2 linked regions of the Homo sapiens genome follow. Each later gene encodes a partner of the first gene's protein in a complex. Each region holds a gene or a part of one and is shown in the gene's direction. Other genes may lie near its edges. The genes, in order: KLB and FGF19.

What was found.
Region 2: the proteins of KLB (region 1) and FGF19 are in contact, whole or in part, in a crystal structure (PDB 6NFJ), measured with the Homo sapiens proteins. Residues at the interface, in NP_783864.1 of Homo sapiens: Phe379, Lys380, Val392, Leu394, Trp419, Phe420, Thr421, Asp422, Val425, Thr431, Tyr434, Met435, Asn438, Tyr643, Glu693, Arg696, His743, Asn824, Phe826, Met832, Gln848, Phe849, Leu850, Gln851, Ile853, Leu862, Phe931, Phe942; in NP_005108.1 of Homo sapiens: Leu192, Thr194, Asp195, Ser196, Met197, Pro199, Phe200, Leu202, Val203, Thr204, Ser211, Pro212, Ser213.

The regions. Positions count from the first base shown.
Region 1 is NC_000004.12:39,399,162-39,414,900, forward strand, and holds the start of KLB (beta-klotho), read left to right. Parts: upstream 1-7,768; 5' UTR 7,769-7,788; coding exon 7,789-8,613; intron 8,614-12,748; exon of another isoform or gene 12,749-12,813; intron 12,814-15,739.
Region 2 is NC_000011.10:69,697,416-69,712,614, reverse strand, and holds FGF19 (fibroblast growth factor 19 precursor), read left to right. Parts: upstream 1-8,592; 5' UTR 8,593-8,738; coding exon 8,739-8,970; intron 8,971-9,250; coding exon 9,251-9,354; intron 9,355-13,038; coding exon 13,039-13,353; 3' UTR 13,354-14,377; downstream 14,378-15,199. UniProt on the Homo sapiens protein: Involved in the suppression of bile acid biosynthesis through down-regulation of CYP7A1 expression, following positive regulation of the JNK and ERK1/2 cascades. Stimulates glucose uptake in adipocytes. Activity requires the presence of KLB and FGFR4.

The DNA.
Region 1 (15,739 bases):
AAACAGATTTACTAAAATTGGAATGATACAGAGAAGATTAGCATAGCCTCTGTGCAAGGATAGAGTTGTGAAGCATTCTTTATGTGTCTTCAGCTTGGGCAAGAGTGACACCCTATCTCTGAAAAAAAAAAAAAGATTTGTGAAGCATTCTTTATTTGTCTTCAGCTTGGGCAAGAGTGACACCCTTTCTCTGAAGAAAAAAAAAAGAAAGAAAAAGGAAAAACAAGAAGAGGAAAAGACACAAAGAAGGCCATGTGAGGCCAGCCACAGTGACTCACGCCTATAATCCCGGCACTTTGGAAGGCCAAGGCAGGTGGATCACCTGAAGTCAGGAGTTGGAGACCAGCCTGGCCAACATGGTGAAGCCCCATCTCTACTAAAAATAAAAATTAGCTAGGCATGGTGGCTCATGCCTGAGTCCCAGCTGCTCGGGAGGCTGCAGCAGGAGAATCGCTTGAACCTGGGATATGGTGGTTGCAGTGAACTGAGATTGTGCCACTGCACTCCAGACTCCAGCCTGGGCAACAGAGCAAGACTTCATCTCAAAAAAAAAAAAAAAAAAAAAAAAGGCCAGGCGTGGTGTCTCACACCTGTAATCCCAGCACTTTGGGAGGCCGAGGCAAGCAGATCAGGAGGTCAGGAGTTCGAGACCATCGTGGCTAACATGGTGAAACCCCGTCTTTACTAAAAATACAAAAAATTAGCCAGGTGTGGTAGCATGCACCTGTAGTCCCAGCTACTCGGGAGGCTGAGGCAGGAGAATGGCATGAACCTGGGAGGTGGAGGTTGCAGCGAGCTGAGATCATGCCACTGCACTCCAGCCTGGGCGACAGAGCAAGACTCTGTCTAAAAAAACGCCATGTGAAACAAGCAGAAATTAAAATCATGTTGCCACAAGCCAAAGAATGTCAAGAGCCACCAGAAGACTCAAGGAAGGGTTCTCCCTCAGAGCCTTCAGAGGGAGCATAGCTCAGCTGACGCTGATTTTGGATAACTGTAGAAGCTGAAATCCAAGAGAACTTGCCACCTGCCCATTTGGAAACCACCACAAAGTAATCAACTGCAACACATTCTTTGACACAAGAAGGGGATTAGAAAAAAGGGTTGCTTCGAGAGTTTAGTGGCAGACTTCATACTTTTTAATTAAAAAAAACACATTTTGTTTTTACCAAAAAAAAAAAATCTTGTATCTTGCATCCTTGCTGTAATCACTTATTAGTGCCAGGATTCTTTGGTTGGTTCTTTAGAAGTTTTTACATAGACAATCATTATCATCTGTGAACAAACACAGTTTTGTTCGTTGCTTCCCTTTCTGTATGTTTTATTTCTTTTGTTGCTGTTGTTTTACTGCATTAGCTACAACTTCCAGCGTAATGTTGAATAGAGGTGATGAGAACAGACATCCTTGTCTTATTCCTAATCTTAGTAGGAAAGTATCTAGTTTCTCCAATAGACTTTATTTTTAAGAGGCAAGGTCTTACTATGTTGTCCAGGCTGGAGTGCCGTGGCGAGTCACAGGCGCAATTATACTGCACTAAAGCCTCGAACTCCTTGCTCATACAATCCTCTTGCCTAAGCCTCCCAAGTAGCTAGGACTATAAGTGTACACCGCCACGCCTGGGTTTCAATAAACTTTTACATCTAATATCAACTATTTGTATTCTTTTAATGTTCATTTTTGGGTTTTGTTGTTGTTGTTGTTTTGAGACAGAGTCTCACTCTGTCGTCCAGGCTGGAATGCAGCGGCACGATCTCAGCTCACTGCAACCTCTGCCTCCAAGGTTCAAACGATTCTTCTGCCTCAGCCTCCCAAGTAGCTGGGACTACAGGTGCACACCACCATGCCTGGCTAATTTTTGTATTTTTAGTAGAGATGGGGGGGTCTCACCATGTTGGCCAGGCTGGTCTCGAACTCCCAACCTCAGGTGATCCACCTGCCTCAGCTTCCCAAAGTGCTGGGATTACAGGCATGAGCCACTGCACTGGCCCATTTTTGTTATTAAAAGTTAAAAAATCAGATTAAATATACAAAAGAAGAAAAATAACTATAACCCTTAGCTCACCGTCCAAACACAATATGGCAAAATGTGGGCATTTTCTTATAATTTCTATATGTGGTTATTGTTCTAATGGTTTTTTAAGTATTTTAATGCTACTATATATTCTCTGAAAATGTTACTGACTCTACAACATTTCATGAATATTCAAATGAATATTCCATGCCTTAGATAAGTATTCCCCTATAGATGGATCTTTAAATTATTTATAATTTTCCTCTGTTATAAATAATATTGCTATAAAAATATTTTTGCATGGAGGACTTTATATATTTAGAAACAATTCATTACAATATATTTCAGAAATTCTTGAATCAAAAAATTTTAGGTTCATGGTATATTGGAAAATTACTTTCCATGTGGTCGGACACAGTGGCTCAGGCTTGTAATCCCAGTACTTTGGGGGGCTGAAGCAGGTGGATCACTTGAGGTCAGGTGTTCAAAACCAGCCTGGCCAACACAGTGAAATCCCATCTCTACTAAAAATATAACAATTCTCCTGAGGCAGGAGAATCACTTGAACCTGGGAGGTGGAGGTTGCAGTGAGCCGAGATCACGTCACTGCATTCCAGCCTGGGTGACAGAGCGAGACTCTGTCTCAAAAACAAACAAACAAAAATAGCCAACTGTGATGGTATGCGTTTAAATAATCCCAGCTACTTGAGAGGCTGAGGCAGGAGAATTGGTTGAACCCAGGAGCCAGAGGTTGAAGTGAGCTGAGATCACGTCACTGCATTCCAGCCTGGGCGACAGAGCAACACTCTATCTTTAAAAAAAAAAAAAAAAAAAAAAAAAAAATATATATATATATATATATATATACATACACACACATATATACTTTTCATGAGTATTGTGCAAACTTACATTGCAATCAACAATCTAATCAACACTGGTTTTCATCACTTATCATTTTTATTTTTGCTAATTTTATAAGATAAAATATTGACCAGGCACGGTGGCTCATGCCTGTAATCCCAGCACTTTGGGAGGCCAAGGCAGGCAGATCACCTGAGGTCAGGAGTTCGAGACCAGCCTGGCCAACATGGTGAAACCCTGTCTCTACTAAAAATACAAAACTTAGCCGGGAGTGGTGGCAGACACCTGTAATCCCAGCTACTCGGGAGGCTGAGGCAGGAGAATCACTTGAACCTGGGAGGTAGAGGTTGCAGTGAGCCTAGATCGTGCCACTGCACTCCAGCCTGGGTGACAGATCAAGACTCCATCTCAAAAAAAAAAAAAAAAAAGATTAAATATTATATACCTCTTTTTATGTATGTTTCTAATTACTCATGGTTTAATTTTTTATTAGCCACATTTTTCACTAGTTGCATTTCCTCTTTTGTGTATTTTTAAATTCATGTTGTTTGGCCATTTATCTGTTAGAGATTTAGTGGCTTTCTTGTTGATTTGCATGAATTACTTATGGCCATTTGCCTTACTTTGGCCATTTGCCTTCTAGATTTGCTTTGACATTTTCCAAGTTTGTTATTTGCCTTTAAATTTTATTTTTTATATTTTAATTATAAATTATTTATATATCATCATATGTAAATAGAATAATATATATAATCTACACATTTACATAATTTAATATTTACTTCTGTTTTCTTTAATTTTCTGTGGCTATATTTTTTAAATTGTGGTAAAATCAAGTAATATGAAATGTACCATCTTAACCATTTCTGTGGTTATACATTTTTGAATTAAATATATTTGTGAGGATCTAAGATATTGCATTTAAAATTTTATTTTCATAAATAGTAATGTACCAACTCCATTCATTCAATAGATAATTATTAATCATTTACTCTGATAAGCAATTATAAACATTTAGATAGGAGATATTCTTACAGTGTGGTGGAGGAGACAAACAACTCCAGGATTATGTGATAAATGCAGTGATAGAGGTATACATAGTCTACTATAGCTACTTTTTTTTTCTTAGTAGAGATGAATTCTCACTATGTTGCCCAGGCTAGTCTTGAACACCTGAACTCAAGCGATCCTCCTGCCTCAGCCTCCCAAAGTGCAGGGATTACAGGTGTGGGCCCTCATGCCCAGCCTACTATAGATACTCTCATTCATTCAGTAAATACTTTAGTGACTGCTATATGTCAAGTACCATGCTGGGCCACAGACAATCAACAGGGAACCAATCATGGTCCCTGTTTTGGTTTTTAAAAAAGAGAGAGAGAGAGAGAAACAGAGAGAGAGAGAGAAAACTTACACTCAAACAGAGGATACAGATACATTTATTGTGTGGTTAGCTGATTTATTGTGTGTCATAATAGAGAAAACATGGGCTGCCATGGGAAAACAGAAGATCCATCTAAATCCAATCAGGCTAGGGAGTCATAGGGAGTCAGAAAGGCCTTACTAATGCAGGAACAGAAGACCAAATACCGCAGGTTCTCACTTATAAGTGGGAGCTAAATGATGAGAACACCTGGACACATAGAGGGAAATAACACACTGGGGCCTATCAGAGGGTGGAGGGTCGGAAGAAGGAGAGGATCAGGAAAAAAAAACTAATGAGTACTAGGCTTAATACCTGCCTGCTGAAATAATCCATACAGCAAACACCCATAACACAAGTTTACGTATGTAACAAACTTGCACGTGTCCCTGAACTTAAAAGTTAAAAAAAAAAAAAAAAAAAAAAAGACGGCCGGGCGCTGTGGCTCACGCCTGTAATCCCAGCACTTTGGGAGGCCGAGACGGTCGGATCACGAGGTTAGGAGATCGAGACCATCCTGGCTAACACGGTGAAACCCCGTCTCTACTAAAAATACAAAAAACTAGCCAGGCGTGGTGGCGGGCGCCGGTAGTCCCAGCTACTCAGGAGGCTGAGGCAGGAGAATGGAGTGAACCTGGGAGGCGGAGCTTGCAGTGAGCCGAGATCCCGCCACTGCACTCCAGCCTGGCAGACAGAGTGAGACTCCGTCTCAAAAAAAAAAAAAAAAAAAGATAGACATGAGCTAGATGAAGGGAGAAACATACTCTGTGCAGAGAGCACACATACCAAGGTACAGGGCTACAAGTTAGCAGGCTGTGTACCCCTTAGTCAACTGAGAGAAGTGAAGCTAAAAATGTGGGCAGGAGCCAGAACAAATTGTCTTTTATGCTAAATCCTGGCATCATGTCCTGAATAATCTTTCCCTTTCACACAAAAATAATATTAGCACATAACTTACTATGTGTCAGTCTCTGTTCCAAGTGCCTTACATGTACTGGCTCATTCGTTTCTATATTCCAGAGAAAACCATTTGGTTCAGTGTATTAACTCGTTTAATTCTCACAATAATCCATGAAGTGCATATTATTATTATGCCTTTTCTTAAAGAGGAAACTGAGGGCAAGTTACACAGCTATATTTAAACTCAGGCAGTCTGCCTCTAGAGGCTCAATCTCTCTTTTTTTTTTTTTTTTTTTTTTTTTTTTTTTTTTTTTTTTAGACAGAGTTTTGCTCTTGTTGCCTAGGCTGGAGTGCAATGGCGCGATCTCGGCTCACTGCAACCTCCACCTCCCGGGATCAGGCAATTCTTCTGCCTCAGCCTCCCGAGTAACTGGGATTACAGGCATGTGCCACCATGCCCAGCTAATTTTGTATTTTTAGTAGAGATGGGGTTTCACCATGTTGGTCAGGCTGGTCTCGAACTCCTGATCTCAGGTGATCCAGCCGCCTCGGACTCCCAAAGTGCTGGGATTACAGGTGCGAACCACTGTGCCGGGCCTCAATCATCTTTTTTTAGAGGTGAGGATAGTCTCACTATATTGCCCAGGCTGGTCTCAAAACTCCTGGCCTCAAGCAGTCCTCCCCACTTAGCCTCCTAAGTAGCTGGGATTATAGGTGTGAGCCACCTCATCTGGCACAGAGACCAAACTATTAACCACTCTGCTTCTCATTCATATGTGATACTTCAAATATTTAAAACATTTATTTATTTATTTATTTATTATTTTTTGAGACAGAGTCTCATTCTGTCACCCAGGCTGGAGTGCAGTGGTGCAATCATGGCTCACTACAGTCTTGACCTCTTGGGCTCAAAGCAATCCTCCCACCTTGGCCTTCTAAAGTGCTGGGACTACAGGCATGCACAACCACACCCGGTTAGTTTTTAATTTTTTTTGTAGAGATGGGGCCTTATTATGTTCCCCAGGCTGTAAAACATTAAATTTTTTACAGGTTATTTGGAGGCTATCGATTTGGTACAATATTTCTTTCTGTATGTGCATGTATTTCTTTCTGTATGTTTATCTTTATTCCAGAATCATGCTGAAGGTAGTCTATGCCTTTGCTATTTTCTTTTTCAGGTTTTTCTTTCCTTTTTAAAAATAAATATTGCCTATTCTTCAAGGGAACTTTCATAATAATTTTCTCTTTTTTTTTTTTTTTTTATTTTGAGACCGAGTCTTGCTCTGTTGCCCAGGCTGGAGTGCGGTGGTGCGATCTCAGCTCACTACAACCTCCACGTCCCAGGTTCAAGAGATTCTCCTGCCTCAGCCTCCCAGGTAGCTGGGATTACAGGTGCCCACCACCGTGCCCAGCTAATTGTATTTTTAATAGAGACGGGGTTTCAACATGTTGGCTAGGCTGGTCTCAAACTCCTGACCCCAAGTGATCTGCCTGCCTTGGCCTCCCAAAGTGGTGGGATTATAGCCATGAATCACTGTGCCTGGCCTTTCGTAATAATTTTCTTGAACTAAAATTTGGGATTAGGCCAGGCATGGTGGCTCACACCTATAATCCCAAGCACTTTAGGAGGCCGAGGCAGAAGGGCTGTTTGAGCCCAGGAGTTCAGGACCAGCCTGGGGGACATAGCTAGACCCCACCTCTACCAAAAAATCAAAAATCAGCTGGGCATGGTGGCATGTGCCTGTTGTCCCAGCTACTTGGAGGCTGAGGAGGGAGGATTGCTTAAGCCTGGGAAGTTGAGGCTGCGGTGAGCTGTGATGACACCACTGCACTCCAGCCTAGGCTACAAAGCAAGACTCTTATTAAAAATTAATTAATTAATTAAAAAATTAGAGATTAGAGAATTTTAGTTAAGTTAAATAAATAAAATAAAAAATAAAATTAGAGATTAGAGGATTTTAGTTAAGTTAAATGTATTAAATTGAAAAGTATTTCATTTTTCCATCCACAAAGTGCTATATTTTCTCATTCAAGTCTTCTCTCAAATCTACCAATACATTTTTGCAATTTTCCTAAAATAGGTAACATTTATTAAGATTGTTCTTAGATGCGTTATAATTTTGTGGAGAAGTGTAATTTCTTATTGTGTTTTCTAATTCTTTACTATTGGTATGTAGGAATGCTATATACTTGTATATGTTATTTTTCTTGATATATGAGATTATAAAATTACCACACAAAAACTCTAAAAATAGAAAAGCTATATACCTTATTCAATAATGTTCAAAACATTCAGAAAAGATTTGGGTCAATATGAAAGGCTACACGGAAAATAATGTGATTTTAATCCAGTGTTTACATATGTGTTAGTTACACATTCAAACTCTTGTCACCGATGCATTTTCATCTAATTTTTTCCATAATGAGAGAGAAGGAGACGCGTTGGTGACTGCAATAGGGCCACCTCCCTCAAATTACGTTGCTCTCTATGACCCATCCTCAGTCTCCCAGTTCAAGCTAATCATTGACAGAGCTTTACAATCACAAGCTTTTACTGAAGCTTTGATAAGACAGTCCAGCAGTTGGTGGCAAATGAAGCCAGGCTGTGCGGCAGGATCTCCAGGGAATGAATGGATTTTCTTCAGCACTGATGAAATAACCACACGCTATAGGAATACAATGTCCAACGGGGGATTGCAAAGATCTGTCATCCTGTCAGCACTTATTCTGCTACGAGCTGTTACTGGATTCTCTGGAGATGGAAGAGCTATATGGTCTAAAAATCCTAATTTTACTCCGGTAAATGAAAGTCAGCTGTTTCTCTATGACACTTTCCCTAAAAACTTTTTCTGGGGTATTGGGACTGGAGCATTGCAAGTGGAAGGGAGTTGGAAGAAGGATGGAAAAGGACCTTCTATATGGGATCATTTCATCCACACACACCTTAAAAATGTCAGCAGCACGAATGGTTCCAGTGACAGTTATATTTTTCTGGAAAAAGACTTATCAGCCCTGGATTTTATAGGAGTTTCTTTTTATCAATTTTCAATTTCCTGGCCAAGGCTTTTCCCCGATGGAATAGTAACAGTTGCCAACGCAAAAGGTCTGCAGTACTACAGTACTCTTCTGGACGCTCTAGTGCTTAGAAACATTGAACCTATAGTTACTTTATACCACTGGGATTTGCCTTTGGCACTACAAGAAAAATATGGGGGGTGGAAAAATGATACCATAATAGATATCTTCAATGACTATGCCACATACTGTTTCCAGATGTTTGGGGACCGTGTCAAATATTGGATTACAATTCACAACCCATATCTAGTGGCTTGGCATGGGTATGGGACAGGTATGCATGCCCCTGGAGAGAAGGGAAATTTAGCAGCTGTCTACACTGTGGGACACAACTTGATCAAGGTACTGTACAGCTAGCTTCTTCTTATAGCTTCAGAAAACACTAAGAATTTAAGAATTTACCTTCTGCCTCAGTAATTCTCTTCACTGAAATCAAGGCAACTGATTTTAAGCTAATTCAAAAGATCTATCCTCAAATTTTGCATTTAAGTTAGTGTATGTTTTATTTATCTAAGGTATTTTTAATGTATTAATCCAATTAGTTTTTTCAAAAGTTGCACTTTGAGGCTATTTTTAAATCTACCATTATACACTACAGTGTGAATATATGAGCTTACTTTCATTCTGTGGGAAAACAGTGCTTCATAAATTTAATTGTTGGAACCCTTTTCTGACAACATGCAATCATTTCAGAATTATCTTAAGGCACAACCATTTCAAATATGTATTTGTTGTTAAGTATAGCTAACTTAGCTAATAAGTAAATAAAGTAAGTAAATAAGTAAGCCAAATAAATGTTAGCTAACTCATGCATATTAAATACAGAAATTTAAATATACTTCACTTTTGATTTTATTTGTGTTACATAGCAAAAAAGAGAAGATTAATTGTTATGGGAGCTAAACACATTTCTTCCCATAAGAACTGGGAAGAATGTGCTCTACTAAAGCAATTTTCAAGCAATATATTTCAAAAGCTAGAGATAATGTTGAGAAATGTTAAAATTAGTAAAACAATAGTGAAAATACAAGCAAAATAATAGGTAATAATTACTGAGTACTTATTATGTACCACAGACTACATTAAGTATTTTACATGCATCGTTACAGTTGATCCTCTTAACAGCCTTTTGAACTAGTTTTATTATTCTTCCCATTTAAAAGATGAGGAAACTGAAGCTTAATGAGATTAAATAATTTTCCCAAGGTTAAGGAGTAAAATACAGCTGTTGTGGACATGGATTTTTTAAATGACAACATAATTAACACTAACTGTCTTCATTAAGAATGCTTTGAAAAGAAGACTCAGGAATTTGCAAGAGATTTAGCCTCACATTGAGGCTAATATCTAGAATCGAATTTAACTTTTTGAGTCAAATAGTTTACTTAGGAAAAATAAATTATTCTGCACACCTGTTACATTTTAAAAATGAAAAAACTTTATCAATATAATTTTATAATGTGCTACAAAAAGTAATTTAATTATTAATAATCAAAAGCTAAATATACAGAAGTAGAAAAAAAATACAGCAACATAAAATAATTCCATGTCTAAATTTGTACATACAAAAATATCTGCTATCACTTCTTTTCTTTTTGAACTTTTCTGGATTATTACACATGTGCATTGTACTATGGTTTCAGATACATCTGCCCTTGAGGTAAACAGATTGCATTATGATTTCAAGGTCATTTGCATATCTTTGACTAGAGTTGTATATAGAACATATTAATGTGTGGGTATACTGTGATTTGACAAAATAAGACCTTAAAGGGTAGAAATTGTATAGGTATTTAACAGTTATCAAGATTATGCATACAAAAGTTAGAAAAATATTCCTCTCATTTAGTCCTTTTAATTTTCTTTTTTTTTTTTTTTGAGACAAAGTCTCACTCTGTCACCCAGGCTGGAGTGCAATGGCGCAGTCTTGGCTCACTGCAATCTCCACCTCCCAGGTTCAAGCAATTCTCCTGCCTCAGCCTCTTGAGTAACTGGTACTACAGGCACATGCCACCAGCCCAGTTAATTTTTGTGTTTTTAGTAGAGAGGGGTTTCACTATGTTGGCCAGGCTGGTCTCCAACTCCTGACCTCATGATCCACCTGCCTCAGCCTCCCAAAGTGCTGGGATTACAGGTGTGAGCCACTGCGCTCAGCCAGTCCTTTTAATTTTTAAAACAATTCATGCTCATGTACATTTAAAAATATCAGATTGGGCCGGGCACAGTGCCTCATGCCTGTAATCCCAGCACTTTGGGAGGCCAAGGCAGGTGGATCACAAGATCAGGAGTTTGAGACCAGCCTCGCCAACATAGTGAAACCCTCTCTACTGAAAACACAAAAATTAACTGGGCGTCGTGGCACGTGCCTATAGTCCCAGTTACTCGGGAGGCTGAGGCAGGAGAATCCCTTGAACCCGGGAGGCAGAGGTTACAGTGAGCCGAGATCACGCCACTGCACTCCAGCCTGGGCGAGAGTGAAACTCTGTCTCAAAAAAATAATAAATAAAAAATAAAAATATCACATTGTACCAAAGGATCTAAAGTGAAAAAGTTAAATCCCTCTCCCTCTCTTCACCTGACAATCCCAGGCCAAGGACGCTACTGTTAATAGTTTCTTATACATTCTTTTTAAAGTTTTCTATGCAAATACATGCATGAATATGTTTATTTAACCTTTGTATAAAGAAAAATATTCTAAATTGTTGAAAAGTCATTACCTGGAAAAATGTCAACAATTAGAGTTTTCATGAAAATGTATTTTAAGGATTAAAGCCTTAAAATTGGCTGATAAGAATAAACAGGCAAAAAGCTTTAACAGATATTGCTTCCAAACATAGTTGATAAAATGACATATTTTCAGATGTTTTCATTTTCCTCTAATTTGAGATATTCTCTGCCTTTAACACAAAATTAGCACTTTATGATCGTGAGATAAATTTTATTATTTTAAATGGAGGGATATGTTTTTCAACTATTGTGTTTTCCAAATAATGTTTGTATTGCCTTAAAAGTTCTAAATCACTAGACTAAATAAATGGTGTGAGGGGTCCTTGAAATCAGTCAGAAAGTGAAATACACTGCATGACCCAGTGACGTATAGCACTAAAGAAATCTTGCAATGATTTGGTAGCCTGAGGTGAACTTGTTTTTCCCACTTGTCCCCTCGCTGTCTTGACTTTCACGTAGAAAACATTAATTTGATATTTTACGTTGCAATGAAGTATTTCTTCCTTCTCCTGCCCCCTTGTGACCCAGAAGAAGCATTCTTTAGGAATAGTTTTTAGACCGAAAACATTTATTGAGCTACACAAGCCTAATATAAAACTGAATTCTGGGGGGGTATGGACCCCTTCATTCCCCACTTCTCAGATAGAGAAAAGGTTTCATAGTGGCTATTGGGGTCCTTTTCGTTCCAGAATGATCTGGAAAACTCCATCTCGGTTTGAAATGTTCCCATTTGGAGGAAACCTGAATGGTCCAGAGGGTCCCAAGGCTGACTTGCAATTTAGATTCCACTTTATTGCAGATGTAGGGAGTACCTTAATGCGGGTCTAAGACTCAGGTAAAAATTTTCCATAATCACACCTACTAATGGATGAACCAACTCTAAGTTTTTGTTTTTGTTTTGTTTTGTTTTGAGACGGAGTTTTCGTTCTTGTTGCCCAGCCTGGAGTGCAGTGGCACAATCTTGGCTCACTGCAACCTCCGCCTCCCGGGTTCAAGCGGGAGCCTCAGCCTCCCGAGTCGCTGGGATTACAGGCAAGTGCCACCACGCCTGGGTAATTTTTTGTACTTTTAGTAGAGACGGGGTTTCTCCATGTTGGTCAGGCTGGTCTGGAACTCCCGACCCACAGCGCCCGGCCTCAAAACTAAGGTTTTTTTTGTTTTGTTTTGTTTTGTTTTGATTTTTTTTTTTTTTTTTTTTGAGACGGAGTCTTGCTCTGTCGCCCAGGCTGGAGTGCAGTGGCGCTATCTCGGCTCACTGCAAGCTCCGCCTCCCAGGTTCACGCCATTCTCCTGCCTCAGTCTCCCGTCAAAGCTGTTTTTAACAGCATTTGAAATAGAATGAGGATGTATTTTTTGGCTTGGCCATTTTTTTTTTTTTAAGACAGAGTCTCACTCTGTCACCCAGGCTGGCGTGCAGTGGCTCGATCTCAGCTCACTGCAACCTCCGCCTCCCGGATTCAAGCGATTCTCCCGCCTCAGCCTCCCGAGTAGCTGGGATTACAGGTGTGAGCCACTGCTCCTGGCCCTGGCTTGGCCATTTTTAAGCACGGTAATCATCACTTTAAATATCATCTCTAGGCCTGGCATGGTGGCTCATACCTGTAATCCCAGAGCCTATGAGTTTGAGACCAACCTGGGCAACATAGCAAGACCCCCTTCTCTATTTAAAGAAAAAAGAAATAATATCTATGTATTCTAAGTGAAGTAACTCAGGAATGGAAAACCAAATGCCATATGTTCTCTCATATAGTGGGAGCTAAGCTATGGGTATACTGAGCTTATGTATGCATCTGCATACCCATAGCTTAGCTCCCACTATATAAGAATGATACAATGGACTATATATACAGAATGATATATACCTACATACAGAAGGATATAATCAACTTTGGAGACTCAGAACAGGGAAGCTGGGAGAGGAGTAAGGGATAAAAAAACTGCATATTGGATACAATGTATACTCCTCTGGTGATGAGTACACTAAAATCTCAGACTTCACCGTTATACAATTCATCCGTGTAACCAAAAACCACTTGTACCCCAAAACTATTGAAATTTTAAAAATATTTTTAAAAAGAGAAATATTATGAACATTTACATTCCAAAAGGACATAAATAAATAAATATTATCTATACTCTTTACAACAATCTTGCCAGGTAACTATTATCCTCATCTTACAGTGTGATATTTTGAATATGCGTGATATTGCTCCCCTGTGTAAAATCCATTAGTGGCCCCCCCAAGCTTTGGGGATAAAGTCTCAATTTTTCACCAAGACCTTTGAGATACAGTTCCCAGCCTCCTTCCTGGCCACTCTCCCATCCTCTTGCACTTCATATTCGATCATAACACACTACTGCCAGTGTCTCAGTCTCTCCTTACTATTTCTCTCCACCCAGCCTCAACTATCCCACTCTGTCTAGCTCAAATGCCCTCTTTACTTCGTGATGGTCACTGCCTCCAAGTCATTCTTGCCCCTTTAGGATTTAAGTGCCCCTTCTGCTGGCTCCCATAAGATGGGCTTGTTTCTAGCATAGCACTCATACGACATGATACTTTTCCATCTCCCCAGCTAGACTGAGAGTTCTTTCAAAGGAGAGACAATTTTTAAATTTGCCTTTATGTTCTCAGCACCTAGCACAGAATATTTGTACATATTAGGTGTAAATGTTGGTTAAATGAATGGTTTAGGATTTCTGTCTTAAATACTGTAATCAAAAACTAATCTCAAGTTCAATCTTCATATTTCATTGCATTATTGCAAACTGTCGAAATATTACTGATATTAATCGGGTGGTATATTAGTCAGGACTTTTTTGGTGGCAAGTTACAGAAATCTAATTCAAATTGGCTAAAGCAAAAAGGGGCAATTTCCTGGCTCAGTAACCAGACCACAGGGATGAATGGGCTCAGTGACCAGGAAGGCCCTTTATTTCAGCCTCTCACGTCCATTTCTTCCTCGGGTTGTGTCATCTTCTCCTTTGTAGAGGAAAGATTTCTCTCTCCCAAGTTTAGTTTTTTCAATCCCAGAAATGTATTTGGCCTATGCAGCAAAGCCCCAAGGGTTCACATTAGTAAAGGCAGTAATGTCTGTTTTCATTCTATTTTTAAATCAATAAATACATGTAATAATTTAAATTTGTACATTTCCCTTTTAGAATGGAACATTTGAGAGTCTCTGAGTAAACATGCACAGAGGTTTGGGAAGGTGAATTTGCTCATGAGACAATAACTCATTCTGTTTATTACTCCACTAAATATTGCCAAAGCGGGGCAGAGTTGCTCCTGCCTGTAATCCTAGCACTTTGGGAAACCGAGGGAAGAAGATCCCTTGAGCCCAGGAGTTCAAGACTAACCTGAGCAACATAGTTTTGTAGAGACAAGACAAACCTTGTCTCTACAAAAAATAAAAAATCAGCTGAGAGTGGTGGCACATACCTGTAGTCCCAGCTACTTGGGAGGATGAGGTGGGAAGATCACTTAAGCCCGGGAGGTCAAGGCTGCAAGGAGCTATGATTGTGCCACTGCACTCCAGCCTGGGTGACACAGCAAAAACCTGTCTCAGGAAAAAAAAAAAATAAATAAAATAAAATAAAATAAAACAAAAAATACTGCCAGCTTTCATGACAGTTTTGACCATTTCATGACTTTAAAAATCTTTGTCTTTTACTAGTCACATTGGGTTAGGGGGAAAATGTTATCTTTCATAGATAAATACTGTTTACATAGTACAAAGATTTCTCAAACCTGGTCACTATTGACATTTGGGGTCAGATAATTCTTTGCTGTGGTAGGCTGTCCTGTGCAATGGAGGAGTTCAGCAGCATCTAAACTCTACTCACTAGATGACAGTAGCTCCCCCATTTTCAGTGTTGTGACAATCAAAAATGTCTCCAGACCTTGCCAAATGTCCCCAGGAAGTCAAAATTCCTCCCCCTCACTCCACCTTTGAAAACCACTGACTTATTCTATAGTAGACAACTGGTTAAAGACATGAAGCACAAAGAACAAGGACATTGACATGTAACCAGTATGAGGGGCATAAAAATGATTATTTTACACAATTGCCTCAAGGAGATCTTCACCAGATCTGTAAGTTGCATACAGAAACTCAAAATTAATGTACAGCCTATACTGTTTTTAGAAAAAAAAAAAAAACAGTGCTTTTAAAATGTTAAAAGAGGAAATAATATTTAATCATCAACATGATTACATCTAGTTTGGCTTTTCACATATCGAGAATAAAGACTGTCCCTCCTGGCTTTGCCTTATTTGTGAAATACTTGAAAGAGCTGCCCCAAACCATTTTTCTTATATTAAGCATTAGTTATTTCTTAACCATTAATATTTTCTTATATTAACCATTCATGAACAAAACACTAATCTTACTTTTTAAAAAAGCTTTTCCTTTTTTAAAAAGCAAAATTCGGCCAGGTGTGGTGGCTCACACCTGTAATCCCAACACTTTGAGAGGCCAAGGTGGGCACATCACGAGGTCAGGAGTTCGAGACCAGCCTGGCCAACATGGTGAAACCCCATCTCTACTAAAAATACAAAAATTAGCCAGGCGCGATGGTGGGTGCCTGTAATCCCAGCTACTCGGGAGGCTGAGGCAGGAGAATTGCTTGAACCCGGGAGGCGGAGGTTGCAGTGAGCCAAGATCATGCCACTGCACTCTAGCCTGGGTAACAGAGCAAGACTCTGTCTCAGGAAAAAAAAAAAAAAAAAAAGCAAAATTCA
Region 2 (15,199 bases), on another chromosome or scaffold:
TAAAACGGAACAACACCTGGCTCTCCGCCTTGCTGCAGGGATAACTGCAGGCCACTCCCCGGGGTGAGGCCTTGATACCTCCAAGTTGAGGCGAACAGACTGAATGTGACTCAACTGGAAGTCTCTGTCTTGACTCCCCGCCACCAGATACTGGCGGGTGACTTCCTCCCCTATGAGCCGCGGGATACTGGCGGGTGACTTCCTCTCCTATGAGCCGCCACTGGATACTGGCGGGTGACTTCCTCTCCTATGAGCCGCCGCTGGATACTGGCAGGTGACTTCCTCTCCTATGAGCTGCCACCGGATACTGGCGGGTGACTTCCTCTCCTATGAGCTGCCACCGGATACTGGCAGGTGACTTCCTCTCCTATCAGTGTTCTTGATACGGATAGGAGAGAAATACTGGCATTTACAAAGTCACAGTGATCATGCAAGTGGGGGACTCAGCATCTGGAAGCGGCCCCTGAAATGAAACCGCATGCAGGGGTCAGTTCCCGGAGTGTGTTCTGCTGTGGACCTTGAAGAAAGTTGTTGTTTATGGAAGCCCCATTAGCCCAAAACAGCCCTCAGCAGAAACAGGAACATCAGCCCATATGGGACCTCCCTGCCTGCGTCCCCTGCTGCCCCAAACACACCCCTTCTGCCCAGCTAGAAGCCCTGTTGCTAAGATACCACAGGGCTGGAAGAGATTCGAATTCCTTTTCTTTTTCTTTTCTTTTTTTTGAGACAGAGTCTCACTCTGTCACTCAGGCTGAAGTGCAGTGTCATGATCTCGGCTCACTGCAGCCTCTGTCTCCCAGATTTAAGCGATTCTCCTGCCTCAGCCTCCCGTGTAGCTGGGACCACAGGTGCCTGACACAATGCCCAGCTAAGTTTTTTTTTTTTTTCTGGAGACAGAGTCTTGCTCTATCAGCCAGGCTGAAGTGCAGTGGTGTGATCTTGACTCATTACAACCTCCGCCTCCCGGGCTTAAGCGATTCTCCTGCCTCAGTCTCCCAAGTAGCTGGGACTACAGGCACGCGCCACCACGCCCAGCTAATTTTTGTATTTTTTGTAGAGACGAGGTTTCACCATGTTGGCCAGGATGGTCTCAATCTCTTGACCTCGTGATCCGCCTACCTCGACCTCTCGAAGTGCTGAGATTACAGGTATGAGCCACCGTACCCGGCCATTTTTTTTTTTTTTTTAGTAAAGACGGGGTTTCACCATGTTGGCCAGGCTGGTCTCAAACTCCTGACCTCAGGTGATCTGTCCACCTTGGCCTCCCAAAGTGCTGGGATTACAGGTATGAGCCACTGTACCTGGCCTAATTTTCTCGACATGATGTGTGACCCATCAGAAGTGTCTGGAATGAGTTTGCAGGTGGGACGAATGATCAGTTTGGCAATGGAAGTCAAGGGAGGGCAGGAGGAAGGAGAGACGGGATGAACAAGGAAAGGATGGGCAAGGAGGCCAGTGAGTGCACAGCAATGTCAACACCTTCCAGTTCTTTTTTTTTTTTTTTCTTTTGAGACGGAGTCTGGCTCTGTCACCCAGGCTGCAGTGCAATGGCTCAATCTCGGCTCACCGCAACCTCTGCCTTCCGGGTTCAAGTGATTCTCCTGCCTCAGCCTCCCAAGTAGCTGGGATTACAGGTGCCCACCACCACGCCCGGCTAATTTTTGTATTTTTAGTAGAGACGGGGTTTCGCCATGTTGGCCAGACTGGTCTCAAACTCCTGACCTCAAGTGATCCACCCGCCTCGGCCTCCCAGAGTGCTGGGATTACAGGTGTGAGCCGCCGTGCCCGGCCCTTCCAGTTCTTTTAAATGATTCATCCAATATTTCTTGGCAGCGTCAAGTGCCAGGCTGGCTCCGTGCAGGACACCAGGGTCATGCCCGCAAACTGCGCACTTGTATCCTCACTTCCACAGAGCTTTGTCTGAAGAGGAGACATGTAGGGTCAATTTCCACCCCAAGACATGACGTCCAGGTACCACACAGCAGAGCAGGCGGAGCTGAGGGCTGCACTCAGAAGTGGGGGCTCTCTGGCTATCTTGCTAGAGTCAGCCCAGGGTCTCCAGTGACCACTCTGGGAAGCACATGGGCAGGTCATGGGGCCAAGGAATCGAAGAGTAGGGCCAAGCCCCTAGCTGAGGCTCCGAATTTGGTCAGGGCTCTTAACTTTTTGAAAGAGCAGCTGTTTGGGTTTTCCTTTTTTTTTTTTTTTTTTTTTTCAGTGGTGGATCACAGCTCACTGCAACCTCTGCCTCCCAGGCTCAAGTGATCCTTCCACCTCAGCATCACAAGTAGCTGGGACTACAGACTCACGCCACCACGCCCGACTAATTTTTGTATTTTCTGTAGAAATGGAGTTTCGCCATGTCCCCCGGGCTGGTCTTGAACTCCTGGGCTCAAGTGATCCACCTGCCTTGGCCTCCCAAAATGTTGGGATTACAGATGTGAGCCACTGTACCTGGCCTGGTTTTGCTTCTTTTTTAAAAAAATAAAAAGAGAGTAATGATTAAATAGCTTTGTGACTCAAATTCAGCTAGAACTGCATTCAAATCCCAACTCTGCTGTTTATTGGCTTTATTTGTGACTCTGGGCAAGGAGCAGTTTCTGAGCCTCACTTTGCCCCTCTTTAGAATGGGAGCTATGAGACCCAAATACCGTGAGGCATGTAAACTGCCCAGGACAGTTCTGGGCACTTGGTGTCAGCCATCACTACCACCACCACCATGGCCAGAGGATTTCAAGCACTCAGCAAATGGTGCTGGCCAGGCCTGTCCTGGGATTTCCTAACCATCTCGGACAGAAGAAAGAAAAAAGACATTGTGGAAAGGTGGCTGAGCTTTTGGAGAGAAAAGACCCTCCCTTTGGGCATGAAGTTTGAAGAGCCATCCACTTGTGGAGTCTGGGACTCATCCTTCTCCACGAAAGGTTTATGAAGCAGACAGAGGCCAGGGCTTCTGAGAATTTCCAACCTCGATATTTTCACTTTATGGTTTTTCACGAAGTCAGCATGAACACGGTTAATGTTTTCTCATTAAGCTACTTTTTGTTTTCTTTCAGTAGCTGACATTCAAAGCCTGGGCGCATTCTTTCACGACGTTGCTACTCTGACAGCTCAACACATTCGCGATGGGAACTCATATCTGTTTTGATGAGGGAGACCAGAGGGAAAAGAGCATTCACGTACAGAAATACCCTTTGTGGCTACTTCTGTCAGCTCCTGTCCTCACAGGTGAGAAAAGTAAGGCTCACAGCACAAGCAGGCCCTCCCAGCTAGGGGAGCTCACGTCCTGGGCCTTCTGAACCGGCAGTAAAGGGAGGGCTCCGACTCCAGCTTTGCTATGCCTCATGGTGCCTGCTGGTGGTGGTGCTTACACACCAGGAGCCCCTGTCCCGGGATAAGACACAGCACAGCCTGGATTTACAAGCCCCACTGTTTGGGTTCAAATTCCAACTTCACCACTAACAGGGTGTGCGACCTTGGGTCACTCGGCCACTTTTCTGGGGCCCCCATTTCCCTCCTGCTCCATGGGGAAGGGGGAATAGAATACCATGGGGGCTCTTGCGGAGATTTGAGCTGAGAACATCCATGTGTGCTCAGGCTCACCGCAGATGTCTGGAGGAAGCTGTGCTGCCCTTTGTGTGAACAGAAGCAGGGCAGCTTCCTGAATTCCACCCTTTACACAGGGCCAGGGCCTACCTGGGGGAGAGACGACAGGGCTCAGTAATTCCAAGAGCGGACATGCGCGAGATGCGTCTCCAAGAATGTTCTCCCCTGCATGGTCTGGCAGGGGACGTTGGAAACAACCTAAACGTCCAGCAATAGGGGACAACAGATTGTATCACTCAGATGTGCTGGTGTCAAAGGCTGTGCTAGGATATTTAATCCCAAGGAAAGTGTTTACAACTGAGTTGGTGGAAAGGAGGTTACAATTCAAATGATTTTTTTTTAAGATACATACATACTTTTTTTATTATTATTTATTTTTCAGTATCACTCTGTTGCCCAGGTTGGAGTGCAGCGGTGTGATCTTGGCTCACTGCAACCTCCGCTCCCTGGGTTCAAGCGATCCTTCCACCTCAGCCTCCACAGCAGCTGGGACTGCAAGCATGCGCCACCACACCCAGCTAATTTTTGTATTTTTAGTAGAGATGGGGTTTCACCATGTTGGCCAGGCTGGTCTTGAACTCCTGACCTCAGGTGATCCACCCACCTTGGCCTCCCAAAGTGCTGGGATTACAGGAGTGAGCCACCGCACCCAGCTGAATCTCATTTTTCAAGATGAAAAGAGTTCTGGAGATGGATGGTGGCGGTGATCCACACAGCTTTATGAATGTATTAATTCCTCTGAACTGTACATTTAGAAATGGTTAGGATGGTAAATTTTATGTTGTTTATGTTTCAACACAATAAAACAACTGGAAAAAAAGTATCTATTAATGCTTATTTAAAATTCAGACACAATTTACTTTAGAATTTAATAGAAATTGCTCTGAAAAAAATGCACCTTAATTTTAAGGGAACAGCTCTATTAGTTTTGATAAATGTCATTGCCTGTGTATTCACTACCACAATAAAGATAGAGAACATTTTCATCTTCCATTTATCCTTCTCTGCTTTTTTTTTTTTTTTTTTTTTTTTTTTTTTTTTGAGACAGAGTCTCTCTCTGTTGCCCAGGCTGGAGTACAGTGGTGCGATCTCGGCTCACTGCAACCTCTGCCTCCTGGGTTCAAGCAATGCTCCTGCGTTGGCCTCCCAAAGTGCTGGGATTACAGGCATGAGCCACCACGCCCAGCCTTCTATTTACCCTTTTCTAGTGGATCTCCATCCAGCTTTTTGTCACTATATATCTTTTTCTAGAGTTGCCATTAAATTTTAAAATAAGTAATAAATGTAGCAAAGATCGCCAGAGAGCAGCATTTACAACAGTAACAATAGCTACCCTTCTGTTATGTGCTTTACATGTGCCAGGCTGTCTCTATCTTACAAATATTGGTCACTTGATAGATGGGGATGTCTTTTCTAATGCTCGTATTAACCCTGTAAATTAGCGTTCCTTTTGCTGTTTTACAAATGAGGAAATGGAATCTCAAAGAGGTCTTCCTTCTACTCTGTCACAGTCTCTGCCAATTTCTGGGCTAGCTGGGTGGCCTCATTTCAGAATAACGATGCGTATGGGGGAAGAAATGGCTGTTGGTGAATCAGAAAGTCTTGGGGGAAATAATGCATGTTCTAGCAGGTTGTAGCAAAAATACTGGGCTGAGATTCAGGAGTCCCTGGGTCTCAGCCTCCAGTTGGCCAGGAACCAGCTGTGGGGCGTGGCCTCGATCACCTCAGTGTTCACAGCTCTCTCGGTCCCACGCTACCCTGCAGTTCTTATTTTCTGATAAAGACTTTTACCACACCCAGAAGTTTCTCCAATTACAAAATAATTTTCAATCACAAGGTGGGAGCAGGGGGTTTGGGAGGGGCTCTAGGGAGTGCTTATGTAGAAGAATGCACATTTGACAGCAAAACATACATTTCTAACTGTAAAATGAAAGGAAAACTATGATTTTCATAATGTAAAAATTGGAGGTGAAGCCGAATAAGATGTTCTTAGACACTGGGACACGGGTTTAGAAATGGTGGAAATCACTCATTTGCCATAATCAGGAAGAAGGAACCTCTACACCCTCAGATGGAAGAAGGAAGACTCCAGAAAAAGGATTTACGGTTCTACAGGGCAATTAAATAAAAAAATAAAAAATGAATTAAAAAAAAAAAGCTAACATCAAATCCAGAACAAAGCCAAGCCAAGCCCTTCTGGACACCTGGGCTGGAGACCCCCATACCCCTGCATGGGTGAGCGGGACATCCAGGTGCCTTGGACCCTACCTGCTACCCATTGCCCATGCCATTCAATGAATGAAACCCCACCTGGGCGATTCAGCCGGCTTAGCCACCCAGGGGCAAATCAAACACAACCTGAAAAGCAAAGTCAGCCCAATGCAGCACACAGGTGGCTTCAGAGGTCCCGGTGTGCACAGAACAGAGTGGGAGGAGGACCTCAGCCCTTGCCACACCTCTGCTCTCGCCAGGAGAGCCCCTTGCTGGCCAGCACTGCCTTGTCCTCTGCAGGCTTGGCTCCCTCTAACCACACACACCAGGGAGCCCAGCAAACACCCAAGATCGTGTGCCTGGCCCACCTGGGGCAAACCCTCGAGGCCCGGCAGTCCATCTCTGTAACCGTCAGCTACCTCACATGAGCAGGATCCATCCCCTAAGCTCTCAGAGCATTGCTGTGCCTGTGAGATGGCCGGCACACAGCTGACCTCAAGGCCTGCCATCAACACCTTCATGAGTGCTACATCCCAGGCCCTCTCTGTCCCCTCTTCCTTGTCACCCTCAGGACAAGCCTGAGAGCAAGCTGAGAGGGCAATGGGTCAGCGGTCCACGACCTACCCAGGGAGTGGCCGGGTGTGATCCATGCTACAGTGGGTCTGACCCCGGAGCCCCTGTCCCGGGATAAGACGCAGCACAGCCTGGATTTACGAGCCCCACTGTTTGGGTTCAAATTCCAACTTCACCACTAACAGAGTGTGCGACCTTGGGTTACTCGGCCACTTTTCTGGGGCCATTTCCCTCCTGCTCCATGGGGGAGGGAGGAATAGAATACTGTGGGGGCTCTTGTGGAGATTTGAGCTGAGAACCTCCATGAAGCGCTCAGAACAGGGGCTGGGGGACAGCAGCCGCCTTCCTCATTTCCCCACCTCCCTGATCGCATCAGCCACTCTCTTCCCCATGTCCCTGGAAGGGGCTGCAGAGGGGTAGGGGTGGAACCAGAGGCTGCCATCGCCCCCACCCGGTTTGGGTCGTGTCCCCCAGTGCAGCCTCTGCCATCGCCCTCAAGAGCATTTATCACGCATTTACCACGGATCTTTAAAACGAAAGCTGCAGGGGAGGGTAATTAAGTTTAATAGGAGCCGCCGTCGATTTAAAGCCACAGGGGGGAAGTAATTAGATTTAACAGAAGCCACGGCTTTCTGAACCAAGACACACAGCGTGGGGGTCCCTGGTCTAGAAAGCCTTCGGGATGATGTCTTTTTGTAAAGACTTTCCTGGTGACATTTGCTGCGCCCTCAGTCATTAACGCCAGTCACTGACTGGGGAATGAATGTGGCCTCTGCTCATTGAAATTCATTAGGCCTGGCATTTCTCTCGCTGTCTCTCCTGTTTGCCCTCCCCATCGCCTTTGCGCTGGGCCAGGAGGGCTCTGCCCCCAAAACCAGCCTCCTGGGGCCCCACATCCAGGAGCTGGGGGTTTGGAAGAATAACAAGAAATAATTAGAGTTAAACCAAAGCCCCGTAGGAGGACCCCTTTATTCCCCGCCTGGGTATTCTCTGGATGTCGTTTTCTTTATTGGCAGGAACCGCTTCATGGAGCGGCCCCCATTTCTTTCCTCACCTGGCACCTGCCCGGACGCCAGGGGCGCCCATCACCGTTCCTGGGCCCCTTCCCGACCCCTCCCCACCAGGTAAGGCGCTCTCGACCTCCCCGACCGTGCTGTTCCTCCTGACCCCGTGCGCAGGGACTCGGGGACTCAAAAACCAGACCCCCGACACAAGACAGCTCAAAAAACGGGAAACGGAGGCCCAGGCCTCCCTCCCTGCGCCCCTGCCTCCACCACCCTCCAGCCGAGAAGCTGGGGTTCACCAATCCCGCAGCTGGCCCGCCCACCCTGCCCGAGAGCCTCCTTCCCAGTGCCCCCTTTCAGGTTGCATCTCGCGCACAGCCGCGGGGCCGGGGCGAGCGCGGAGCAGGCAGGGGCGCGGGGCCAGGAGCGCAAAGCCCAGGCGGACGCCGAGGCTGCGGCGCCACCTACAGTCCGCGCGGCTTCCATTGTTTCCCCGCCGGCCGAGAGCGCGCCCGGCCCCCCGTCGGGGGGCAATTTACCCGGATAAAAGGGGCGGGGCAGGAATTGCAAGAAGATGAAGCTGAAAGAACCTGAGACTGTCGGAACTGCCGGGGAAAATTCTACGGGACGGCTTTGACGTCAGATGTGCGGGGCTGCGAAAGTCGGGGGAGGGAGTGCGAGTGGGCTTTTAAGGGGAAGGGCACTAAGGCCGAGGTGAGGCTTTTCCCGACAGAGGGTGAAGGGGGCAAAACTCGGTGCCCCCCAACCTCTGGCCCCGGGGTTCCTGACCCCGCCCCCGCTAGTGCCCCACGCCGAGTGCATCCACTGGGAGCCTGAGGCCTGGGGGAAGGGCCCCAGTTGTCGATTGCTTTACAAAGTCAAACTCTCCCAGCCAAGAACCTCGGGGCCGCTGCGCGGTGGGGAGGAGTTCCCCGAAACCCGGCCGCTAAGCGAGGCCTCCTCCTCCCGCAGATCCGAACGGCCTGGGCGGGGTCACCCCGGCTGGGACAAGAAGCCGCCGCCTGCCTGCCCGGGCCCGGGGAGGGGGCTGGGGCTGGGGCCGGAGGCGGGGTGTGAGTGGGTGTGTGCGGGGGGCGGAGGCTTGATGCAATCCCGATAAGAAATGCTCGGGTGTCTTGGGCACCTACCCGTGGGGCCCGTAAGGCGCTACTATATAAGGCTGCCGGCCCGGAGCCGCCGCGCCGTCAGAGCAGGAGCGCTGCGTCCAGGATCTAGGGCCACGACCATCCCAACCCGGCACTCACAGCCCCGCAGCGCATCCCGGTCGCCGCCCAGCCTCCCGCACCCCCATCGCCGGAGCTGCGCCGAGAGCCCCAGGGAGGTGCCATGCGGAGCGGGTGTGTGGTGGTCCACGTATGGATCCTGGCCGGCCTCTGGCTGGCCGTGGCCGGGCGCCCCCTCGCCTTCTCGGACGCGGGGCCCCACGTGCACTACGGCTGGGGCGACCCCATCCGCCTGCGGCACCTGTACACCTCCGGCCCCCACGGGCTCTCCAGCTGCTTCCTGCGCATCCGTGCCGACGGCGTCGTGGACTGCGCGCGGGGCCAGAGCGCGCACAGTGAGTGCCCGCCAGCACCCCCGCCCGCCCCGCCGCGCGCACCCCACCCCGCTGCGCGCGCCCCACCCCAGCGCCCTTCCTTCCTTTGCCACCCTTAGGCTCCTGCGGACCCCTCAACTCCTGGGAACCCCAGGTTTTGGCACCTGGACGTTAGGATCCCTCCGTTAGTCCCCAAACAGCGCGGGACGCTAGGGAGAAGCACAGGCTTGTGGACCGACCGCACCCACGTGGTGCGGGCCCAGCGGTCCTTGCTGCAGCTTCTCGCTTCCCCTGCGCCTAGGTTTGCTGGAGATCAAGGCAGTCGCTCTGCGGACCGTGGCCATCAAGGGCGTGCACAGCGTGCGGTACCTCTGCATGGGCGCCGACGGCAAGATGCAGGGGCTGGTAAGTGTCCCCACGGGGCGGATGCGCCGGGGCGGGGGACCGGCGCCTGTCCCCGGGCGGAGGCCTGAAGGAGAGAAAGGCGCTGGTTCGAATCCAGGGTTTCCTCGCCTCCTCCGCCCAGACCCGCGTGCAACTTCGAGGGAAAGATTGCAAAGACCGATTAAGTGCATGTCCGACGATTTCCTACGGAAATTTAGGGTCTCAGCCAGCAGCCAGAGAATAGGCAAAAGCTGCCTTTGCATTTCCAATTGAGTCAAAGGCCGGCCTAGCCGGACCGAGGAAACCCATTATTCGGCCTCCTTTGATATTAAACAGGAAAACCCACCTCGGGCCTTTTCAGCCTCTGCCTGCGCGTGTGTGGTCCTCGCCTCCGTTTCCCTCCCTCCAGTATAAAAGAAGAAAAAAAGAATGGGAAAGAAAAAAGAGGATCTACCCATAACTTTCCTTTAAAAACAAATCAATTGTCAAGCAAGGCAGAAAACAGTGCATTTGGGATAGGAGAGATTTTTTTTTTAGAATTAATTTTTAATCTACCAGGAGCACGGTGTGGCTTAGACGCAGATGCGCTGGAGTCATGTTGCGCCAGGGGAGTGCTTTTCCTCCTGCGGGCCTCACCTGTCCTGTAAACGCTTTCTGGTGGGGGCAGGGGGTGGGGGCTGGCAGGGAAGGCCCAGGTAACCGCAGAGGTCCCGGGGCCGGAAGTGTACGAGCGCTGGGGCTCTGGTGGCCGGGAACAAAGGCTGGGAGTTCAAAGGAACGAACCCGCGCCCCTCCCGCGGCCCCGCGCGCAGAGGAGGCTGTGTGAGGTCTCGGCCCGCGCAGGCCTCACACGCAGCCCCGGACTCCCTGGCGGAGCAGGGGCCAGGGCGGGGGTGGCCGCGCCTGCCCGGGGCCCCCACCCCAGAAAGGATGCAGAGGCGGGGCCGCCTCCGGCCCAACCAGCTCCTTTGTGAACAGCGGGACAAAGCATTTTAGAGTCTCAAAATTGCTCGGTGCCTCTGCCGTGCTCCGTGTACTCGGAGCGCCTGTTTCAGGTTTTATGGCGGAGTCCTGCGTGAGAGGACTGCAGAGAAAGGGGGTGGTCGGCACGCTGGACGCTGACTCCCACCCAGAGCCGCTCCAAACCCACCCTTGCAACTTTAATTTTGACATTTACTATGGCAGGGGGTGTGGGGGTTCCTAATGATGGGAGGCCAGCAGGGGACGTCAACCTAACCCGCCATTCTGCCCAAATTGGGGGTTGGGTCACCTGAAATCCCTCTGTGCCTTTTTTTTTTTTTTTTTTTTTTTTTTTTGGCAGAGTCTTGCTCTGTCGCCCAGGCTGGAATGCAGTGGCCAGATCTCGGCTCACTGCAACCTGTGCCTCCCAGGTTCAAGCGTTTCTGCTACCTCAGCCTCCCATGGAGCTGGGATTACAGGTACCCACCACCAAGCCCAGCTACCTTTTGTATTTTGGGTAGAGATGGGGTTTCACCATGTTGGTGGCCAGGCTGGTCTTGAACTCCCGACCTCAAGTGATCCGGCCGTCTCGGCCTCCCAAAGTGCTTTGGGATTAGAGGTGTGAGCCACCGCGCCCAGCCCCCTTTGTGCCTCTTGATCCCCTGTGCATGGTCTAACAGAAATTGAGGATCTTTTTTTTTTTTTTTTTTTTTTTGAGACGGAGTCTCGCTTGCTCTGTCGCCCAGGCTGGAGTACAGTGGTATGATCTTGGCTCACTGCAACCTCCACCTGCGGGGTTCAAGCAATTCTCCTGCCTCAGCCTCCCAAGTAGCTGGGATTACGGGCACCGTGCCACCATGACCGGCTAGTTTTTTTGTATTTTTAGTAGAGATGAGGTTTCACCATCCTGGCCAGGCTGGTCTCGAACTCCTGACATCACGATCTGCCTGCCTCAGCCGCCCAAAGTGCTGGGATTACAGGCATGAGCCACCTCGCCTGGCCTCTTTCTTAAATAAAAATGCCACATTCTTCTAGAAACTTGAAGTCATTTCGTTTTCTGTATGGAGAAAGTGATACTAATTTCTCCCAAAGGACAAGCCAAGTAAATAGAAGAAGGTCCTCCAATCATTCGGTTTTGTGTTCCTTGTTTATTGATCATTTGGCATTTTTGGGAGTTTGGGAGAAATCACGCTTGCTGTCCGATGCTTTGTCCCAGCCATCCGTGGGCTCGGCAGGAGCCTGGGTTGCTGCAATGAGCCTCTTATCAGGAGCTTATTAGCACAGGTACCTCGTCACCCACCTGCAGTTCAGTGACCTTTGCAGACTTAGGCAGGAACCTGACTGAGGCCGTCCTGCAGTGTGTTTACTGCCCAGCCCTTCCGGCTCCCGCCTGCGCCTGTCCTGGGTCGCCAAGGGGTAATGACACCGGTGTGGGATGGCACTTGCCCACTGGCACCTCTCAACCCCGTGGACTATGAATGTTCTAAGACAAGGCTTCCCTCAGCACACATTTCCGGCCACCAGCTGGGCGCCGGCCTGGCCTGGCCTGGCCTGGGGGAGGGGCTGCTGAGATCTGCCTCCTGGCAGCCTGCCTGGAAGGCCCTTGGTGACTGAATGGAGGAGACAGCGGGGCTGATGGTTCTCAGAACTGCTGCAGACCAGAAGGCCTTAGAATGATAAAGGCACACAGTGATTTCTGAGATAGGTGGGGAACAGATGCTTTCATCTGGGACCCAGATCGGATCACACGCAATTTATTTAAAAGACCTATCCTAAGATGACAACCCAGTTTATCAGTGTTTCCCAAAGTGCCAATGAAATACCCAGGAACTTTTTAAATGCCAGGAGTTATGTCTGTAATGTAAAGGGTGAGGGAAACACAGACGGCATTCCTGTGGGTTGATGGATATTATTGCTTAGGACAAGGCTCTCGAAAAAGTGAGGTAATTTAGTGGAAATTATTTGGGTCTATATAGAGTGTATATGTAGTATTAAGTATATACATAAAATATACATATATGAAATAATAAACCTCAGTTTTGTCTGTGTGCATGTATATCTATATAAAGATTATAATTTATAAAGGTATATAAATGTATATTTAATTTATTAATGGGTTATATATTAACATAATGTACATATTATATATGCTTACACTTACAGTACATTTATATATGTGTGTGTGTTCTCTGTGTATATATATAGTTGTGGGTTTTTTGTTTTGTTTTTTTTTGAGACAGGGTCTTGCTCTATCACCCAGACTAGAGTGCAGTGGCATGATCATTGCTCAGTGCAGCCTTGACTACCCAGCCTCAACCCATCCTCCCACCTCTCAGCCTCCCGAATAGCTGGGCCTACAGGCGCCCACCTCCATGACCTGCTAATGTTTGTACTTTTTGTCAAGATGGAATTTTACCATGTTGCCCAGGCTGGTCTCAAACTCCTGGATTCAGGTGATCCATCTGCTCTGGGCCTCCCAAAGTGCTGGGACTACAGGTGTGACCTACTGTGCCTGGCCTTAAAGTACATTATATATTATATATACTTACATATATAAAGGTATATTTTATATATACTTACACGTACAGTGTGTACATCAGGAAGTATGTATAAAACATGCAAGTGATGCTTATGTGGAAGGTCACTGCTGGTGGCCACCAGGGACAGTCTGTAGCACAAACGTCCATGTGGACCCGTGTTCCCTGTCCACTGTGGATTGCTCAGAGCTGCCTGTTTTCTCTGCAGCTTCAGTACTCGGAGGAAGACTGTGCTTTCGAGGAGGAGATCCGCCCAGATGGCTACAATGTGTACCGATCCGAGAAGCACCGCCTCCCGGTCTCCCTGAGCAGTGCCAAACAGCGGCAGCTGTACAAGAACAGAGGCTTTCTTCCACTCTCTCATTTCCTGCCCATGCTGCCCATGGTCCCAGAGGAGCCTGAGGACCTCAGGGGCCACTTGGAATCTGACATGTTCTCTTCGCCCCTGGAGACCGACAGCATGGACCCATTTGGGCTTGTCACCGGACTGGAGGCCGTGAGGAGTCCCAGCTTTGAGAAGTAACTGAGACCATGCCCGGGCCTCTTCACTGCTGCCAGGGGCTGTGGTACCTGCAGCGTGGGGGACGTGCTTCTACAAGAACAGTCCTGAGTCCACGTTCTGTTTAGCTTTAGGAAGAAACATCTAGAAGTTGTACATATTCAGAGTTTTCCATTGGCAGTGCCAGTTTCTAGCCAATAGACTTGTCTGATCATAACATTGTAAGCCTGTAGCTTGCCCAGCTGCTGCCTGGGCCCCCATTCTGCTCCCTCGAGGTTGCTGGACAAGCTGCTGCACTGTCTCAGTTCTGCTTGAATACCTCCATCGATGGGGAACTCACTTCCTTTGGAAAAATTCTTATGTCAAGCTGAAATTCTCTAATTTTTTCTCATCACTTCCCCAGGAGCAGCCAGAAGACAGGCAGTAGTTTTAATTTCAGGAACAGGTGATCCACTCTGTAAAACAGCAGGTAAATTTCACTCAACCCCATGTGGGAATTGATCTATATCTCTACTTCCAGGGACCATTTGCCCTTCCCAAATCCCTCCAGGCCAGAACTGACTGGAGCAGGCATGGCCCACCAGGCTTCAGGAGTAGGGGAAGCCTGGAGCCCCACTCCAGCCCTGGGACAACTTGAGAATTCCCCCTGAGGCCAGTTCTGTCATGGATGCTGTCCTGAGAATAACTTGCTGTCCCGGTGTCACCTGCTTCCATCTCCCAGCCCACCAGCCCTCTGCCCACCTCACATGCCTCCCCATGGATTGGGGCCTCCCAGGCCCCCCACCTTATGTCAACCTGCACTTCTTGTTCAAAAATCAGGAAAAGAAAAGATTTGAAGACCCCAAGTCTTGTCAATAACTTGCTGTGTGGAAGCAGCGGGGGAAGACCTAGAACCCTTTCCCCAGCACTTGGTTTTCCAACATGATATTTATGAGTAATTTATTTTGATATGTACATCTCTTATTTTCTTACATTATTTATGCCCCCAAATTATATTTATGTATGTAAGTGAGGTTTGTTTTGTATATTAAAATGGAGTTTGTTTGTATCAAAAGGTGCATTCTATTATCCGCCTAGAATGTTAGGGAGGGTGGGGAAGGGGCTGGTGGGGGGCAGCACCGTCCACGGGAGGAAACCCTCGGTGTGTCTGCCCTGGACACCAAAAGCTCGGGTGGGAAGTTAGCGGGTTTGGGCCAGCCAGCTCTAGTGGTGGAGGCTGGTTTGGGCCCTGCTGTCCTGCCCTTTCCTCATGCCTAGGGGCTTGGCTTCCTCAGTCCACCTTCTCTCTAGCAGTCTCAGTGGTTAGGGCGGCCTCTCTGCCAGGAGTGTTTTTGGCTGCAGGAAACAAACACCAAGGAACAGCGGCCTAAGTGAGGGCCTCTCGCCCTCAGCACTCTTCCCTGGGGAAAGACGTTCCTGCATTTAACAGTGCCCCCCCCACCCCCCACCATTAGATGCCTGTAGAAACCCTCAAGTTGTGACAACCAAAATACCTCCAGAAGTTGTTGCATGTTCTTAGGAGGCAAGATCACCCTTAACGGAGGACCACTGACCGGAGCAAATAGGATTTCTTTTTGTCCAGCCACAAATCCAGAGGGACCCAGTGACCCAGCGATGCCTGGGCTGTGCCCTGTGTGATTCCCTTGGTGTCCCTGTCCTGCTGGGGCCTCGTCTCGCCAGGGCTGCTGTGGCTTCAGCTGAGCGCCCTGTACTCAGGGAGAGGGAATCATTTCGGGCTGGGCCTCTCTCATCAAGAAAGCCAAAACTTCCTTAGAACCTTTCAGCAAATTCCGGCTACATCCTAAGAACCAGGTTTGCGTCACAGGACCAGGCCAGCCCCAGCTGCACGGCAGGCTGGGAAGGCAAGAAT